2 separate regions of the Homo sapiens genome follow, and region 1 is linked to region 2. A link means that fine-mapping ties the variant in region 2 to the expression of a gene that starts in the linked region. Tissue or cell type: monocytes. Region 2 holds a variant in brackets; the other region holds the start of a gene. All regions are shown on one strand. Distances are from middle to middle.

Region 1 (8,153 bases), 31 kb after region 2:
TGCAGGAAGAACGCTCTAAGCAAAGAGAATAGCCAAGTCCTGAGTTGCAAGGGTGCCCAGTGTTTTTAAGGGACAGCGTTTGGGGTGCAATGAGTGGGGGACACTAGGAAGATGTTGGGAGACAATTCTCCATAGGTTTCTGTTTGTGCATGCCTGGTGAGCATTCTTCTGCACCATCTTTTCAAATACGTTTGTATAGCAAACAGCCTTGGAAGATACTGTCCATTCTAGGACAGAAGACTAATTTGCTGTCAATATAATAGAGATAATGTCTCCTTTCAGGGTAAAAGTTGGGCAGGTTTGTTTGCAGCTCGTCATGAAAATTTGGGGTTTCCTAGGCTCAGGGTTCCTGGGCTATGATGCAACAGAGTCCATTTGGATTGGGCTCCTTGCGGCGCCCCTAGGACTTAGGGGAAAGGGGGACCTATAATCACAATGTTCATGCTCCTAGTTGTGCTGTGAGTAATAGAGTTCTTTGTCTCTGACTCTGGAGTCTCATGTCTTCTGCTGGTGACCATGAAGCTGTGGTGGGCTAACTTGTTAGTTCTAAGTTAACTTATAACTAACAGATCCTTCTAACTTATAACCCAGGTCCTTCACAGCTCTTTTTTTTTTTTTTTTTTTTTTTTTTTTAGACAGAGTCTCACTCTGTCGCCAGACTGGAGTGCAGTGGCGCAATCTCGTCTCACTGCAACCTCTGCCTACTGGGTTCAGGTGATTCTCCAGCCTCAGCCTCCCGAGTACCTGGGACCACAGGCGCCCGCCACCACGCCCAGCTAATTTGTTGTATTTTTAGTAGAGACGGGGTTTCACCGTGTTGGCCAGGATGGTCTCGATCTCTTGACCTCGTGATCCACCCACCTCGGCCTCCCAAAGTGCTGGGATTACAGGCGTGAGCCACCGCACCCAGCCCCTTCACAGTTCCTGGCAGAGGGATGAGATCAGAGACAAAGAATGAAGGGATGAATGAATTGGGATTCAGAGAGCATTCTTCCTTAAACACAGAACATCAGCACTGAACAAGTCGCAGGCCAGGTGCACACACACAGCTCATCACTCCCTTGGGGTACAACAAGCCCAAGGACTGACCACAGAACCATAGAAGCCTTCTATGGACACGGCAAAAAGAAGCAAATGGGGACCACCTGTTCACAGCTGCTGCTCCCTGTTGTTGGTGTGAGATAAAGTGGGGGTGACCTCCTGGATAGAGGAGAAGACTGAAGTAAGAGGGCTTGGAGGAAGATCTGAGGAAGCCTGGCTCAGGTTCAGAGTTTCTGAACCTGAAGATTCTGAACATGAAGATTCCAGATCTGACTGTCCCTTGTGCCCCCATCCCCCCAGCTCACCATTGCTGGCTTCTCGGACAAGCTGTTCAGACAGAAGAACCCACCACCTAGGCCTCCCTATACCTGCAGGAATAAAGCCTGGGCAGAAAAGATGTGGAGCTTCCAGGCCTCCCTATACCACAGCTGCAGGAATAAAGCCCTGGCAGAAAAGACGGGGAGCTTCCCAGGGCCACACTCTGTCTGCCTCCTGTCCTCCAGCCACTCCTGTGGCACAGAGAGAGGGGACCTGCAGAGCCTGGGTCACCTGCCTCTGTTGCCTCCCCTCTTCTCCCACCAGAGCTGCCTCGTGCCCTCAGGGTTTCAGGGGCAGCTCAGGCTTGCCAGACGTCATAGCTGTGTTTTTTTTTTTTTTGGATCGGAGCGTGTGGTGAGTGAGCTGGCAGTGAGGGACTAAGGGAGTGAGAGGACAGAGCTCTGGGTCCTGAGGGGGCCCCCTCAACCTTTAGCCCTTGCCCCCATGAGGTCTACTTCTCAGATTCCCAAGGAGCCGGGAGGTGAGGGTCCTGCTGCCCTGGCTGGCCCCCGTGGACAAGGACAGGCCTGTTTCCTCAGCTGTGTCTGCTTCTGGCTGGAAGGAAACACCTGGATATGAAAGAGCCAGTGGGGTGGGGGTGGGGGAGCATTGTTCCCAGGGGCAGGGAAGCTTGGTGGGATCTGAATTCAGGTGGGGCCTGAATGCAGCAGGGACCAGATGGCGATGACTGCAGCTTGGCATCTGCAGCCACCGTGTCAGCCGAGGCGCTTTCGTGGAGACAGTGTAGGGCCTGCAGCAGGTTCTAGTGTGAGGCAGCGGGGCATGGTGGCCAGGCAGGTGGCATTCCAATCCTGTTAATAGGGCAACTTGGGCTGCTTGCTTAAAACCTCCGTGCCTCAGTTTCCCTATCTTAAAGGGGACCTGACAACAACACCTACCTCATAGGCTTGTCATGAGACTAAATGAGATGATATTTGAAAACCACATAGAGCTAAATAAATAAATGGACCGGGCCAGGCGCTGTGGCTCATGCCTGTAATCCCAGCACTATGGGAGGCCGAGGTGGGTGGATCACGAGGTCAGGAGATCAAGACCATCCTGGCTAACACGGTGAAAACACAAAAAATTACTACTAAAAATACAAAAAATTAGCCAGGCGTGGTGGTGTGTGCCTGTAGTCCCAGCTACTTGGGAGGCTGAGGCAGGAGAATCGCTTGAACCCAGGAGACGGAGGTTGCAGTGAGCCGAGATCGCACCACTACACTCCAGCCTGCGCAAAAGCGTGAGACTGTCTCAACAACAACAAAAAAGGACCGGCCTGCGAGTGCTCCACACACCCCCTCTAGCTGTGCTCCCCCCAACACCTGACTTTCCCACTTGCTTTCCTGCCTCTGGGGGTTTGCACACTTTGCTCCCCATTGCTGAGGTGCCTCTTGCCTCCTCTTTGCACACCAGGTCCTCCCTTGAGCCTCAGCCAGGCACCACCTTCCACGGGACCCTCCCTGAGCCCGCACCCTGCAGTCTCTTTCATCCTGCACACACCACACACCTCCTGGCTCGCTGAGGACCCTGAAGGTTCTGAGTTGGTCACTCGCAGCTGTGTTCAGACCCTCTTTGCAAGCAGTCAGCCCTTCAAGGACAGAGACCAGGCCTCGGTCAGACTCTGGCACACATAGAAGATACTGGATTTGTGTATAGGAAGAGAATCAGCCAGACCAGCATGACTTTCACCAAATTCCCCAGGAAAGTGATGGGCAGATGATGTCCCAGAAAGGGCACAGACTGGGACCCAGATGTTTCACACTGAGTCCTGCTCCTTGCTAACCCACTCTGCAATCTTTGGCAAGTTGCTTCATCTCCCTAAGCCTCAGTCTTCTGTTCTATAAAATGGCACTAAAACACTTATCCAGTCAACCTCTAAATGCTGGTGAGAATCAAATGGGAAAATGGGTGTACTCTGCAGCACCGGGCATCAATCATTAGTCCTATTATTAACAGCATGTACAGGATTCCAGAAGAAAGGAGAGTCCTTCTCACAGGGTCCCGTGTCTTTTCATCTTGTGAAAATGGGCTGAAACAATCTTAACTTGGCAGAATTACCCTGCAGTGTCTGAGGTCACCCTTCTCAGAAAGACGGCCCTGGCAGCCCTGAGCCTGGATAAATAAGAGCCAGGGGTGTTTCAGCCCCCCCAGGGGCTCCCCTTCCAGGTCCCTCCGTTCCACCCCTCTATCTGTTCTGCTCAGATCTGCCTGCCTGGCGATCTCCATCCAAGCCAGCACTTACCTTGGTTCGGTGGCAGCTTCTGGGCTCCCCAAGTCCTTCAGCCAACTCCCCACGGTCCTGAGCGAGGTCCCCAGTCCCAGAGAAGCAGATGTCTTGGGGGAGCCTCCACGGGTGTCTGTGGTCTTGACTGTGCTCTTCAGATCTGCAAAGAAAAGCTCGATGTCTCACAGCTCTGTCCCCTCCTCTTCCTTCCCCTTCCTTGTGGCCCTCGAAGCTCCTCCCAGAATGCATTTTGCTGTGAGGATCCTTTCTAAAGAAGCATGACCCACGGTCACTGGAGGTCCTTTATTCTGATCGAATGTGACCAATTTTATGGGGCAGGAGGGGGACACCTCCCAAGAGACTCCCTCTGGTGTTGACGGGGGAGGGACTGATGCAGGGAGCCCTGACCTCTCTCTCAAGCTCCAGACTCACCAACCATCCCCCACCCCTGGACATGGCCAGCCAGATGTCCCTCAAGCACCTCCATCTCAACAGGTACAAACCGAGCTCATCATTTCTCCCTCTAAGCCCACTTCTCTGTTTCCTGCCTCAGAATCAGCAACCTCGGTATCATCCTAACGCCTCCCTCTTCCTCGCCTGTTACATCTAAACTGCACCAAGCCCTGTCAATAGGTCATGGATCCTCCACTTTCTTCCATCCCTATGGCTGTCACTGTTTCACCTGACTACCATGGTCTTTCTCCTGAAACACTACAATAGCCTGAGGTCCTTCACCCCACAGCCAAAGGTCTCTTTCTAAGAGTGAAACACAAATCTATTCATGTTACACTCCTGCTACAACCTTCAATGGCTCCTTATTACTTTAAAGAGAATGGCCAAACTCCTCAGTGTGACTTGCCAGACCCTTCTTGATCTGGTCCCTCCCTAAACTCCAACCTCATGCTTTATCCCCTCACTCCAGCCCCTCCCAGAAGTACTGCAGTCTCTTAACTATCCAGGCTGTGGGAATCACTTCCCAACCCTTCTCCTGGCTCATCCCTTGTCATTCATTATTTATCAGAGAAGAACAAAAAAACAAGCCTAAGAGGCAGGAGGAAAGTGGAGTGCCAGGGATGCTGGCAGAAGACAGAATGCCAAGGAGGAGACAATGGTCAACGACGCCAATGATTGTGGAGAGGACACAGGTGAAGAGAATGAAGAAGCATCTGCTGTCCTTGGCAATTAGGAGAGAGCAGTGCTGGGCAGGAACAGTAGACCTGCTGGGGGAAGTTGATCAACCGCATGGTGACACATTTGCTACTTTGTCATTTTCTTTTTTTCACATTTTGAAGTCAAACACTATTTGGGAGAGTCTCTGACACATTTCTAGAGCTTTGAAAAACTCACAGATTCTATGCTGTCATCCCGTTGGGCCTAATGGGTAAATGGCTCTAGAGAGTGACAGATTGCTGACAGCAGGGTTTGAGTGCTGGATCCAGCTATGCCTGAAATTCTGGGGCTGAATCTACTCTTGGACTGTTCATTGTACATGATCCAATAAATTCCATTCTTTTTTGGATTAAGCCTGTTGGAGTTTGTCACTTGGCTCAACTCAGAGAGCTTTGGGGCTGTGAAGTCACTGATCCTTTCCCGTAGGGGCTTGACTAGGTTCTATGCTGACCTTTCATTTTGCAGAGGAAGCTATTTGGAAAAAAAGTCCAGAAATGTAAATCATTTACTCTATTGCTGTGCCTTCCTCCCATAACTGCTTCTTTTCTGTCCCCTTCATGTGACTGAAGTCACATTCTATCTTGCATCTTTGTATTAGCGTTCTCAGCTCACATGTCTGCCTTGTTCCTCCCTCAATGAGTCCTGAAAGAGCAGGGGCTAGAGTGTTGTTCATTATTCCGTCCATCACAGGGTGAAAGAGTGTTAAGAGAATGCTTGGCTTATTTATGAAGCAAATGGGTGACTGAACGAAGGAAACGAATACGCCCAGGACAGAATAAAGGACCAAGAACTCAGCCCCTGCAGGTTCCAGACTCAGCAGCAGCTGGGCAGTGTGGCCACCCTGGGCAGCGCCTCTCCTTATCAGCCTTGGCTTAACTGAATCGGAAATCACAAGCCGAGGTCACTTCTTGTGGGTGCACTGCTCTCTTTATCATCAGCTGCCATTTCTGCAACTGCATTTGCTGTGGTACCCATAGAGGGGGCAGCTTGGTGACCATAGAGAGCCCCAGAGCTGTCCCTTGCAAAGAGGAGCTAGGGTGCTTTCATTTTTGAGTGCACACGGCTGACCGCCAGCCAGGAACAAAGGACAGTGGGAGGAGGAGGTGACAATAGGAAGGACCAAGTTCCCCCACGGACCCCAGTGCACCGTCCCTACCATCACCAAGGCAAGGCAGCACTACCCCTTTTGCCAATCCCAGCCATGTCTTTCCTCTCCAGACCATGTTCTTAGGATTTGTTTAATCTGGGTTTTCCAGGCTGTGCTCTTACCAGGTTTCTCATCTGCACCAGTCTCCAAAGAGCAGCCCCCTCTTTCCCTGCCAAAAGGCAAATGATCCGTCAGCATCAGAACTGTAAAAATTAAGGTTCCCTGCTTTCACTGTACTAGTTCCCAGATGACCTGGTCAGCTAATGGAGGCAAAGACCCCCCAGAATGATCAATGCCCAAGATACAGAAGCAGAAGGCCCACCATCTATTGTCACTCCCCTTCCTCCTCCTCCTTCTGCCACCCTCCTCTGCCAAGTGAGGGTCCCCACTCCTGGTGACCCTTCTGGGCATAGCTGCAATGGCCTCTCTTCAGGTTCTCCTATCTCAGCCAGGGTGTTTGGAAGTCTGTTTACATAACTCGCCTTGGGGTTACAAAGTTACTTACCTTCTCTACAGATGAACCACTGTTTCCAATCCATCCTCATCCATTTTCTAATCCATTACAAAGCCACTGAGAGCTTTAAACAAAAATTAAATCTTCTTGCAACTGTGGACAGAGCCACGGGTGAGGAGGGCCAGGTACCAGCATTGCGGAGGTCTGCAGGACCACAGTATTGGAGTCAGGCAAGAATTACATGCTTAGGAAAAGAGGTCCCCAGGGTCGCTTGTGTCCTCACCTGCAGTGCCACCCACCGTGGGAGCTGCTCTGGGATTATTCAGCATCGAAGGCGGCAGAATTTGTCATTTCAGTTTTCTAAGGAATCCACTTACATAAAATACTAATAAGCAAAGTCAATTTTACTAAAGATTATGTAGGAGGATGAAGGGAGTGTACATCACACGTCTCTTGGCAAACTATTCAAAAATCCTCTGTGGATAGTTCTGAGGATCCCGACGTCCCTCCTCCATGCCATGCCATTGGAGCGGGCAGCCTGGAATGGGGTGGGCTTTTGTGCTTTTTCCTGTCTCTCTTCTCCCCATGTGACCCTGACTCATTAGCGTCGGTTCCTCCCTCCTAGATTTTTTTCACAGACATATCCAAATTGTCTTCGAAGCCCATTCAGAGCACTGTAATTCCATTCTAATTCTCAACTCCCCACTTTTCTACCCCAAATTCATGACTGCCACCCACACAGATAGCTCTCTGGTTGGCAGGACCCATTTTTAGAAAACCGTGAGAGGTAATAAACCAGAAAAGAGCTGTTAGGAAAACACATTTTGATTCGTTTAAACAATCACCTCGTGAGTCAGCTACAGTTACACAGATAGGTTAAGTTTAAACGCTCTCATCCCTGGTGGAGGTGAGACTCGACACACTGCCTCGGCACAGGCAGTACCCAACTGCGGGGCACCTTTGCCTCTGGTGCAGTCCCTCCAGCTCTTGCCCACGGCCCAGAGGCAGGCAGGACAGCGTCATGCTCTAAGCCACTGGTTCGCTAAGGGTAGTCCCTGGACTGGCAGCATCAGCATTGCCCTGGAAATCCGTTATCAACTAGTACTGTCTGCTGTGGCTGTGGAAAGGGAGGAACAGTGCACACCTCGGGAATTTTCCATCCTTTACTTCCAGCAGCGTTATTTGGCAGAGTGCATGCAGAATCAGGACTAATTGGGGTGATAGAAGAAGCGGATTTATGCTTCATATCCAACCAGTCACCTTCTCAGCTATTTTTCTTATTTTTGGTGGTGGTGGGGAAGTTTTTATTTTAAATGCCATCAATGTTCTTTTTTTGTTAAGCTGTAATGTTTAAAAAACTAGTCAAGTAGGCCAGGCACGATGGCTCATGCCTGTAATCCCAGCACTCTGGGAGGCCGAGGCAGGTGGATCACCTGAGGTCAGGAGTTCGAGACCAGCCTGGCCAATGTGGTGAAACCTCGTCTCTACTAAAAATACAAAAATTAGCCTGGCATGGTGGCCGGTGCCTGTAATCCCACCTACTTGGGAGGCTGAGGCAGGAGAATCACTCAAACCTGGGAGGCAGAGGTTGCAGTGAGCCAAGATTGTGCCATTGCACTCCAGCCTGGGTGACACAGCAAGACTTCGTCACAAACAAACAACAACAAGAAGAACAAAAACTACTTAGGTAATCCATAAATATATTTCCATTATAAAAACACTCAAGCATTGTAGGACCCTAAGAGGAAAAAAGGAGGGTCTCTCTCCTCCCCCTCCTCAATTTCTTTACCCTCCCA
Region 2 (8,188 bases):
CACTTGGATCAATGTTCTAGCCCCCACTAGATTGTGAATTCCAGGAATTCACAGGGAATTTTGTCTGTTTCATTCATAGCTGCATCTCCAGCACTTAGAATAGCTCACTGCACCAGGTGTTGTTCTAGGGGCTGGGATACAGCAGCAAACAAAAGAGATTGTGTGATCTGGGAAGCCCCCCCTGAGAAAGTGACTTTTTTTTTTTTTTTTTTGAGACGGAGTCTTGCTCTGTCACCCAGGCTGGAGTGCAGTGGTGTGACTTTGGCTCATTGCAACCTCTGCCTCCTGGGTTCAAGCGATTCTCCTGCCTCAGCCTCCCGAGTATCTGGGACTACAGGTGCGCACCACCACATCCAGCCAATTTTTGTATTTTTAGTAGAGACGGGGTTTCACCATGTTGGCCAGGACGGTCTCGATCTCCTGACCTCATGATCTGCCTGCCTTGGCCTCCCAAAGTGTTGGGATTACAGGCGTGAACCACCGCGCTTGGCCGAAAGTGACTTTTAGGTAAAGACTTGAAGTGAAAGAGTGAGCCATGCAGCCCAGCGCGGTGGCTCACGCTTGTAATCTCAGCACTTTGGAAGGCCGGGGTAGGTGGATCACGAGGTCAGGAGATGGAGACCACGGTGAAACCCCGTCTCTACTAAAAATAGAAAAAATTAGCTGGGTGTGGTGGCCGGCGCCTGTAGTCCCAGCTACTCAGAGAGGCTGAGGCAGGAGAATGGCGTGAACCCAGGAGGCGGAGCTTGCAGTGAGCCGAGATCACGCCACTGCACTCCAGCCTGGGCAACAGAGCAAGACTTCGTCTCAAAAAAAAAAAAAAAAAAAAAAGAGTGAGTCGTGCAGGTATCTAAGAGAACGTTCCAAGCATAGGGAGTAGCCAGCGCAAAGGCCCTGGGGTGCAAGTATGTTAGGCATGTGCATGTTGGGAGACAAATGAGGAGGCTTGTTTAGCTGGAGCAGAGGAAATGAGAGGGAAAGTTAGGAGACAGGCCAGAGAGGAAATGAAGAGAGATGGGAACAGGTCAAGGCCCTCAAGATGAGGTTCTTGTATTTTTATTTTTAGAGATGGGGTGTCTCTCTGTTACCCAGGCTAGAGTGCAGTGGTACAGTCACAGCTCACTGCAGCCTTGAACTTGGCTCAAGTGATCCTCTTGTCTTCCGAGTAGCTGGGACTGCAAACACATGTCACTGCGTCTGGTATTTTTTTTTTTTTATTACTTTTTGTAGAAATGGGGTCTTGCTATGTTGCCCAGGCTGGTCTCAAACCCCTGGCCTTAAGCAATCCTCCTGCCTCGGCCTCTCAAGTACCTGCAATTATAGGCATGAACCACCACACCAGGCTCTTATAGGTCATTGCAATCACTTTGGCTTTGACTCCGAGTGAGATGATGTAGTAGCTACTGTTGTGGTGACCCAGATTCCTGCTTTCGGGGCTGAGACACTCATTCACCCTGCTGCTAGGAATACTGGCATTATCTTATATCTTATTATTGGTTTTTTTTTTGGAAATGGAGTCTCTCTCTGTCACCCAGGCTGGAGTGCAGTGGCACAATCTTGGCTCACTGCAACCTCCACTTTCCGGGTTCAAGCTATTCTCCTGCCTCAGCCTCCAGAGTAGCTAGGATTACAGGTGCCCGCCACCACGGCCAGTTAGTTTTTGTATCTTTAGTAGAGACTGGATTTCGCCATGTTGGCCAGGCTGGTCTTGAACTCCTGACCTCAGGTGATACACCCGCCTCAGCCTCCCAAAGTGCTGGGGTTATAGGTGTGAGCCACTGCGCCCAGCCAAAATGTATTAATTTTTGATTTGGGGGAAAAGGTGATGCGAAACAGGAGAAGGAGGAAGAGCAGGGTGAATGACTGGTATGGGCATGCAGGGACGAGGGCTGGGACTGACAAGGGGCTGCAGGCAGGGCCATTACCTGCAGCTTCCTGTGCAGAGCGCCTGCGTGACAGGCCTCCCCCAGAGCCGCCTGCAGGGCGTGGGAGACCACGTGGCGCATGCAGGTCTCTGGTGTCTGCTGCGCCTGGGCCGCCTCGATCTCCAGTAGCAGAGCACTGCACACAGACGCAGACACCAGCTCAGGATCCACGAAGAGGAACACTCTGAGGGCAGAAGCAGAGGGGAGAGGTGGGATTGATAGTAACTAATGGGAGAGGGGCCACCGGATGGGCACCCTCAGAGCTGTGCAGCACCTCCAAGTAATTTAATTCTGCTAAAAAGAGGAGTCTCAGATTCAAAAGTCTCTGGGTGGGATGACAATAGGGAGTGGTGAGGACTGTGGCAAATAAGAGCATGCACAGCCCTTCTAGAGGGGCAGCTCTAATCCACTGTCCACAGAGGAAAGCAGGCCTAGTCCCATGTTTAGGAAAGTTCCAGCCTCAATCCTGCTCCCTCTCTCAGCATCCTGGCCCAGGGACCAGGTCACCCTCTAGGAGGGACCCTAAATCCTTCCTGCCAGAACTGGAGTTCTGAACTCTGAGTGAATCTCACCTTCTTTCATCACTCTTATCACACCAGAGAGCCAACCTCCCCTACTCCCTCCTCCTCACCCACTGTGTCTCCCCACCTCTCCCATGGGTGCCCTGGGCCTCCTTGCATCTTTCATGAACTCAGCACCTCACACCCCAAACTCAAGCTGTGCCTTTCAGGGCCAAGTTAGTGGAGGTGCCTGCAGAAGAGGGAGGTGCCGCTCCCAACTTCATCACCCCTCTCCCCAACACGAGCAGGGGACACTTCCTCAGTCTTATCTAAGAGGCTTGGCGTCCCCCATGGAAGCCCTCTGGCTTCATTGTGCACTTGCGCCTGAGCCCCTCCGCTATGGCTATTCTGGAGTCTCCTCTGGCTGCCTGGCTGGTATGATGCTGCATTATGGCCAAGGGCAGGATGGAGGTGGAATGACAGAGCCCCAGAGTGGCCCCGAGGCCATGTCCACCTTCTGCATGTGAGCAGGGTAGCTTCCAATCCAACCTGAGAAGAAAGACCTATCCTGTGTTCAGTGGTCTCCAGAAAACAATATGGCGCCAACCTTGAATGGCAAACGCACCCCACTGCTGGACAAATATCATGGCTGGGGAGGTCTGCTAGGGCTCTTCTTAATCCAGCCTCCTCTTTTGTCCTCCTGCCAGGGAGCAGTCACTAAAGCCACAACAGTTTTAGGAGGCTGAAGGTAGCAATTTTTCTGGGGCCACTCACCTCTCCTGGTAGGGATACAGCTCATTCGTCAAGTTCTGTTCGGCAATGACCATCCTTTGGTACAGTGTCCCTGCAAACCAGACCACTTTGGCCAAACAGCCCCCAAGTCTCTGACTCCCATTCTCCACCTTCCTACAGAAGGTGTGGAGGCTTTTGAGCTCCCCGGTATCCTGGAGAAAAAGGAAAGACCCTGGGCAATGTTGGAGGTGCAGCGTGGGAGACAAAGATGCCCAGTGACTCTTACCTGGGACAGCCATCTCCGTTTTCAGCCTTATCGCGCAGTCCAAGGCGACTGTGCAGTAGGGGGTGGGCAGGGTCAGTAACCTTGTGCAAAAGGCATAGATTCTCTGGTAGAGCTCTTCTGTGATTCCTGTGGCCTGGGTGAGAGGGAGGAGGGGGAGGTGAGAGGGAGGAGGTGGAGGTAAGAGGGAGGAGGGGGAGGTGAAGGGTCCCGGGGGAGTTTCCGGGGAGGGGCTTGGGAGAAGAGGTGGAAGGTCAGGCCTAACAGCCAGACCTGGGCTCACAGCTCTCTCCCAAACCCACACCTTCCAGCCTCTTCTCCCAGCACCTGTAAGACATCCATTTGTCGCCCCGCCCCAACTTACCAAGATAAAAATTCATTGCATCAAGTTATGCAAGCAAATCAACTTCCTCCCAGCCCTCCTGCTCCATCAGGGAAGCACATTCCTGCGGTTCTCCAGGCTCAAAACCATGGAGGCACTTCCTCAGTCTCCTTTGCTCCTCCTTGCATCCCACAGGCCTGAAATGCTCCACAGTGCCCGGGAGGCCCCCCTCTCCCTCCCGACCTCAGTGTGCCCTCCGTCTCTGCCGGAGCTAAGCCCCATCTTGACCCTGGACTCTCCAGCAACCCCAGACTTGGTCTTCCTGCCTGCCTTAACCACCACTCCCACCCGCTGCAACAACACGCAGCTCCCGATTACTCCTCCTGAGACATTAACCACATGAGTATCATGTCTCTTCTCTGTGTAGGGATCAGTGATGTCTCCTGTTGCACTGCACACAGGAGCAAACCCAAAGACCTCATCCTGCCTTTCAAGGCCATTGTCTCTCCAGAGTTCTCTCTCCATATGGGAGGGAAAGGGGGTGGCTAGTGCTCAGAAGCCAGTTTAGGGCAGGCAATCCAAGGGATTTTCTAGGCTCATCCTGGCGGAGACTGAGTGCCCACTAAGGGGAGAGTGTCCAGCCCAGCCACATGCAGGTCACCACTACCACCTCGACCTCAGTCCCCAGCTCACCTTGGTGAGCACGTACATTACAGTGTGCAGCAAGGGAATGATGACATGCCGGAGGTCCTGGCTTTCCGCCTGGAAAACAGGAGATCACGTGACAGGTATTGGGCTGGGGGAATCCCCACTTCATAGCGGGAGGCAGTCTAGGCTGGGAGTGGGCAGGAGATGGGGTGGAAGGCAGCCAGGGGGAGAGCAAAGGGCCATTGTCTGCTCTGGATAGAGGAGTGGGGAGGGGAGGGCACACAGGTGAGGAAGCCCCTCAG[T/G]GAGGGTGTGGGAGCGTGGGGGGGCCTCAGAGAACTCTGCAGGTGAGGGGCCAAATTTAATTAGGGTAGGAGTCGCAGCAAAGCAACAAACAAGTCCTCAGCTCGGAGCCTCCCTTGAGTGCAGTGTTTCCCAAACGGTTGCAAAGTACAACATTGGGTAGTGTGAAGGAGAATTTAGGTGGCCCGAGGATAATTTTGAGAAACGTCAATAGTCGTATATTTATGTTTATAGGTACCTTCTGTTTCTGACAAGTGATGCGGGTTTTCCATTTGTGGTCGCGTTATAGTGCTTCTTTTTGAAAGATGTTTATTCAAGTAAAACAATGAGAGTCGACGTAAAGAAAATACTGCTTACGTAAAAGTACAGGAGGGAGATGCATATGGTAAAAATCATGCAGGCAACCAAAGCTTATGAGATATAGCGCTGCCAGGACTGAGCCCCTGCCCAATTGGCCCCTCTCTTCCTTTCATCCCCGTCTTCCTCCCTGAGGTCCAGGAACTCACCTTCTCCAGTTCTCTGAGAAGAATGCGGACCAGCACTGGGCTCTTACCGGGATCTCGCTCGACCTTCTTGTGCAGGGACCACCTCCACATGCCTGGGCCAGGAGAAAGGGGAGCCCGGCATGAGCAGGTGGGCAGTTCTTAGAGGAGACCCCTCTGAGCAGGACCCTGAGCCCTGGAGCCTCAGCTGCAGCTCTGACCAGCCACGGGTGTGACCCCGCCACCAGCGCTTGGCTCCAGGTGCACCTGGGTGGGCTCCTCCCAAGTGGGGAGTTCTAGTCTGTAGCCCTTTGTGGACAGTGAATTCCCAGGGCAGAAAGGAGGGCAGGTGGGACACACCAGTGGGGACAGGTGTGTGACAGGTGTATGCGTGTGGACCACAGAGCAGCAGTGCTTGCAGGTGTGTGCTCCGAGCCACATTCTGGAAGTCCTGCAGGCCTGGAGTGCTGAGGGGAATTAGGTTTGGAAGTGGAGCTAGGGAAGGTGGTTAACAAAGAGGGTGGCAGGCCGGGTGCCGTGGCTCATGCCTGCAATCCCAGCACTTTGGGAGGCTGAGACAGGCGGGTCACTTGCGGTCAGGAGTTCGAGACCAACCTGGCCAACATGGTGAAACTGCATCTCTACGAAAAATACAAAAATTAGCAGGGCATGGTGGCACACGCCTGTAATCTCAGCTACTTGGGAGGCTGAGGCAGGAGGATCGCTTGAACCAGGGAGGCAGAGGTTGTGGTGAGCCGAGTTTGCACCACTGCACTGCAGCCTGGGTGACAGAGTAGGACTCCATCTCAAAAACAAAAGAAAAAAAAAAGGAAAGAAAAAGGGTGGCAGATCCCCAATGTGCTCTGTGGCAGTTGCTGGGAGGGTTGAACTAGGGAGCAGAGAAGCCTTCTCAGTCCTTCAGGCTCTAGGTATTTCCAGCAGGAAAGGGGTTTGGTGAGACGACCCTTGCCCCCTGAGCTCCAGGCCGGGGCTCTTTCCTGTATGCGCGTGTATTGTTGGCTGGGGTTGGGTGGAGGTCAGAGGGACCAGCTGCTGCTGCCAGCTGGCTCTTACCTTGGTTGCTCTGCAGGGCAGGGGCCTGGGTGCTGAGCTCCCGGAGCACAGCCTGCACGCTCCTCTGGAGGTCCAGCTCCACATCTGGGCAGTGGTAGGGGTGGGAGGAAACTCAGTCCACTGAACCTCACCCTCGTCCCACCTCCATTCCTTCCGAGAGTGTCTTTAGCCATTTCTCTGAGCCTCAGGAGGTGCCCGAAGTAATCGACTTAGAGCTGGCAGCCAGCATGCCAGCCAGGGCTGGAATATAGCCTTCCCTTCCACGTTTCTGTGTTCTTTGTAAAACCTGCATTTCCCAAAGTGCAGTATGTGTACCACTGGTGGTATGTAGGACAATTTTAGGTGGTACACAAACGACCTTAAAATCTGAATAGTTATGCATTTATTTTAATGCATGTTAGAAAATACATGTATGTATTTTCATATATATGTGAAATGTATATATCCTCCAAACATATATATGAAATATATATATCCTCCAAATATGTATATGAAATATATAGCCTCCAAATATATATGAAATATATATAGCCTCCAAATATATATATGAAATATAGCCTCCAAATATATATATGAAATATATATAGCCTCCAAATATATATATGAAATATATACAGCCTACAAATATATATATGAAATATATACAGCCTACAAATATGTATATGAAATATATACAGCCTACAAATATGTATATGAAATATATATAGCCTCCAAATATGTATATGAAATATATATAGCCTCCAAATATGTATATGAAATATATATAGCCTCCAAATATGTATATGAAATATATATAGCCTCCAAATATGTATATGAAATATATATAGCCTCCAAATATATATATATGAAATATATATAGCCTCCAAATATATATATGAAATATATATAGCCTCCAAATATATATGAAATATATATATGGCCTCCAAATATGTATATCAAGTATATATACAGTCTCCAAATACGTATATGAAGTATATATCCTCCAAATATGTATATGAAATGTATATCCTCCAAATATATATGAAATATATATATCCTCCAAATATATATGAAATATATATATATAAAATATATATATAAAAAACTATTAGGTTTGTGCAAAAGTAATTGCAGTTTTTGCCATTATTATTATTATTTTTGTGTGTGTGTGTGTGTGTGAGACGGAGTCTAACTCTGTCATCCAGGCTGGAGTGCAGTGGCGCAATCTTGGCTCACTGCAATCTCCGCCTCCTGGGTTCACGCCATTCTCCTGCCTCAGCCTCCCGAGTAGCTGGGACTACAGGCGCCTGCCACCACGCCTGGCTAATTTTTTGTATTTTTAGCAGAGACGGGATTTCACCGTGTTAGCTAGGATGGTCTCAATCTCCTGACCTCGTGATCTGCCCGCCTCGGCCTTCCAAAGTGCTGGGATGACAGGCATGAGCCACCACGCCAAGCCTTTGCCATTATTTTTAGTAGTTCCTGAATCCATGCATGAAGCTAAAACTTATTTATTTTATTTATTTATTTTTTTGAAGCCTACAGCACCCTGTCTTTTCTGGTAGTCTCCACCCCCCGCCCCAAGTATAAAGCTAAAATCTAAAGTCAATTTAAAGAATCGTATCAGATACATACCAGGACAGGTGGTAACAAAGACTCTCTCCTTGACCAAACCTTACTCAGCCTCCTCTTAGCCCTCTTCTTCACTAGGGCTCAGCCCTGGCTCCTGTCCTGCCTTTGGCCTGCCCATCCCAGTTTTAGCAAGAATCCTGCCAAATCAGTTTAGGTTGGAGTCCTCCACTCTTGATATCTCCTGAACCCCTTCATCCCTTACCGTCGATGTATAAGAATTTGACTTGTGCCTCTAGCAAAAATCCTGTTAGCTCAGTTTAGCAAGAATGTCCCGACCCTTGATGTCTCCTCTTAGGAATTTTCCATCCGCT

What was found. PIP is the estimated chance that this variant, and not a neighbour inherited with it, causes the effect.
Region 1: it holds the start of PIK3R6, and the variant in region 2 is fine-mapped to the expression of PIK3R6 in monocytes (TOPMed, PIP 0.94).

What each region holds. Positions count from the first base shown.
Region 1 is chr17:8,863,925-8,872,077 of GRCh38, forward strand. PIK3R6 (phosphoinositide-3-kinase regulatory subunit 6) reads right to left here and starts at 3,750. Exons shown (of 20, transcript NM_001010855.4): 1 at 3,605-3,750. It overlaps LOC107985071 (a long non-coding RNA gene), which reads left to right and starts at 3,850. Exons shown (of 2, transcript XR_001752787.2): 1 at 3,850-4,081; 2 at 4,608-5,109. RefSeq lists enhancers at 976-1,045, 1,096-1,235, 1,346-1,695, 3,519-3,698, 3,729-3,878.
Region 2 is chr17:8,833,348-8,841,535 of GRCh38, forward strand. PIK3R6 (phosphoinositide-3-kinase regulatory subunit 6) reads right to left here. Exons shown (of 20, transcript NM_001010855.4): 3 at 6,267-6,350; 4 at 5,217-5,308; 5 at 4,456-4,524; 6 at 3,444-3,576; 7 at 3,200-3,269; 8 at 1,926-2,109. Among named protein-coding and RNA genes, the nearest start is that of PIK3R6, 30 kb to the right of the region's middle. RefSeq lists an enhancer at 3,479-4,285. The variant T/G (reference allele first, on the strand shown) is at 4,713.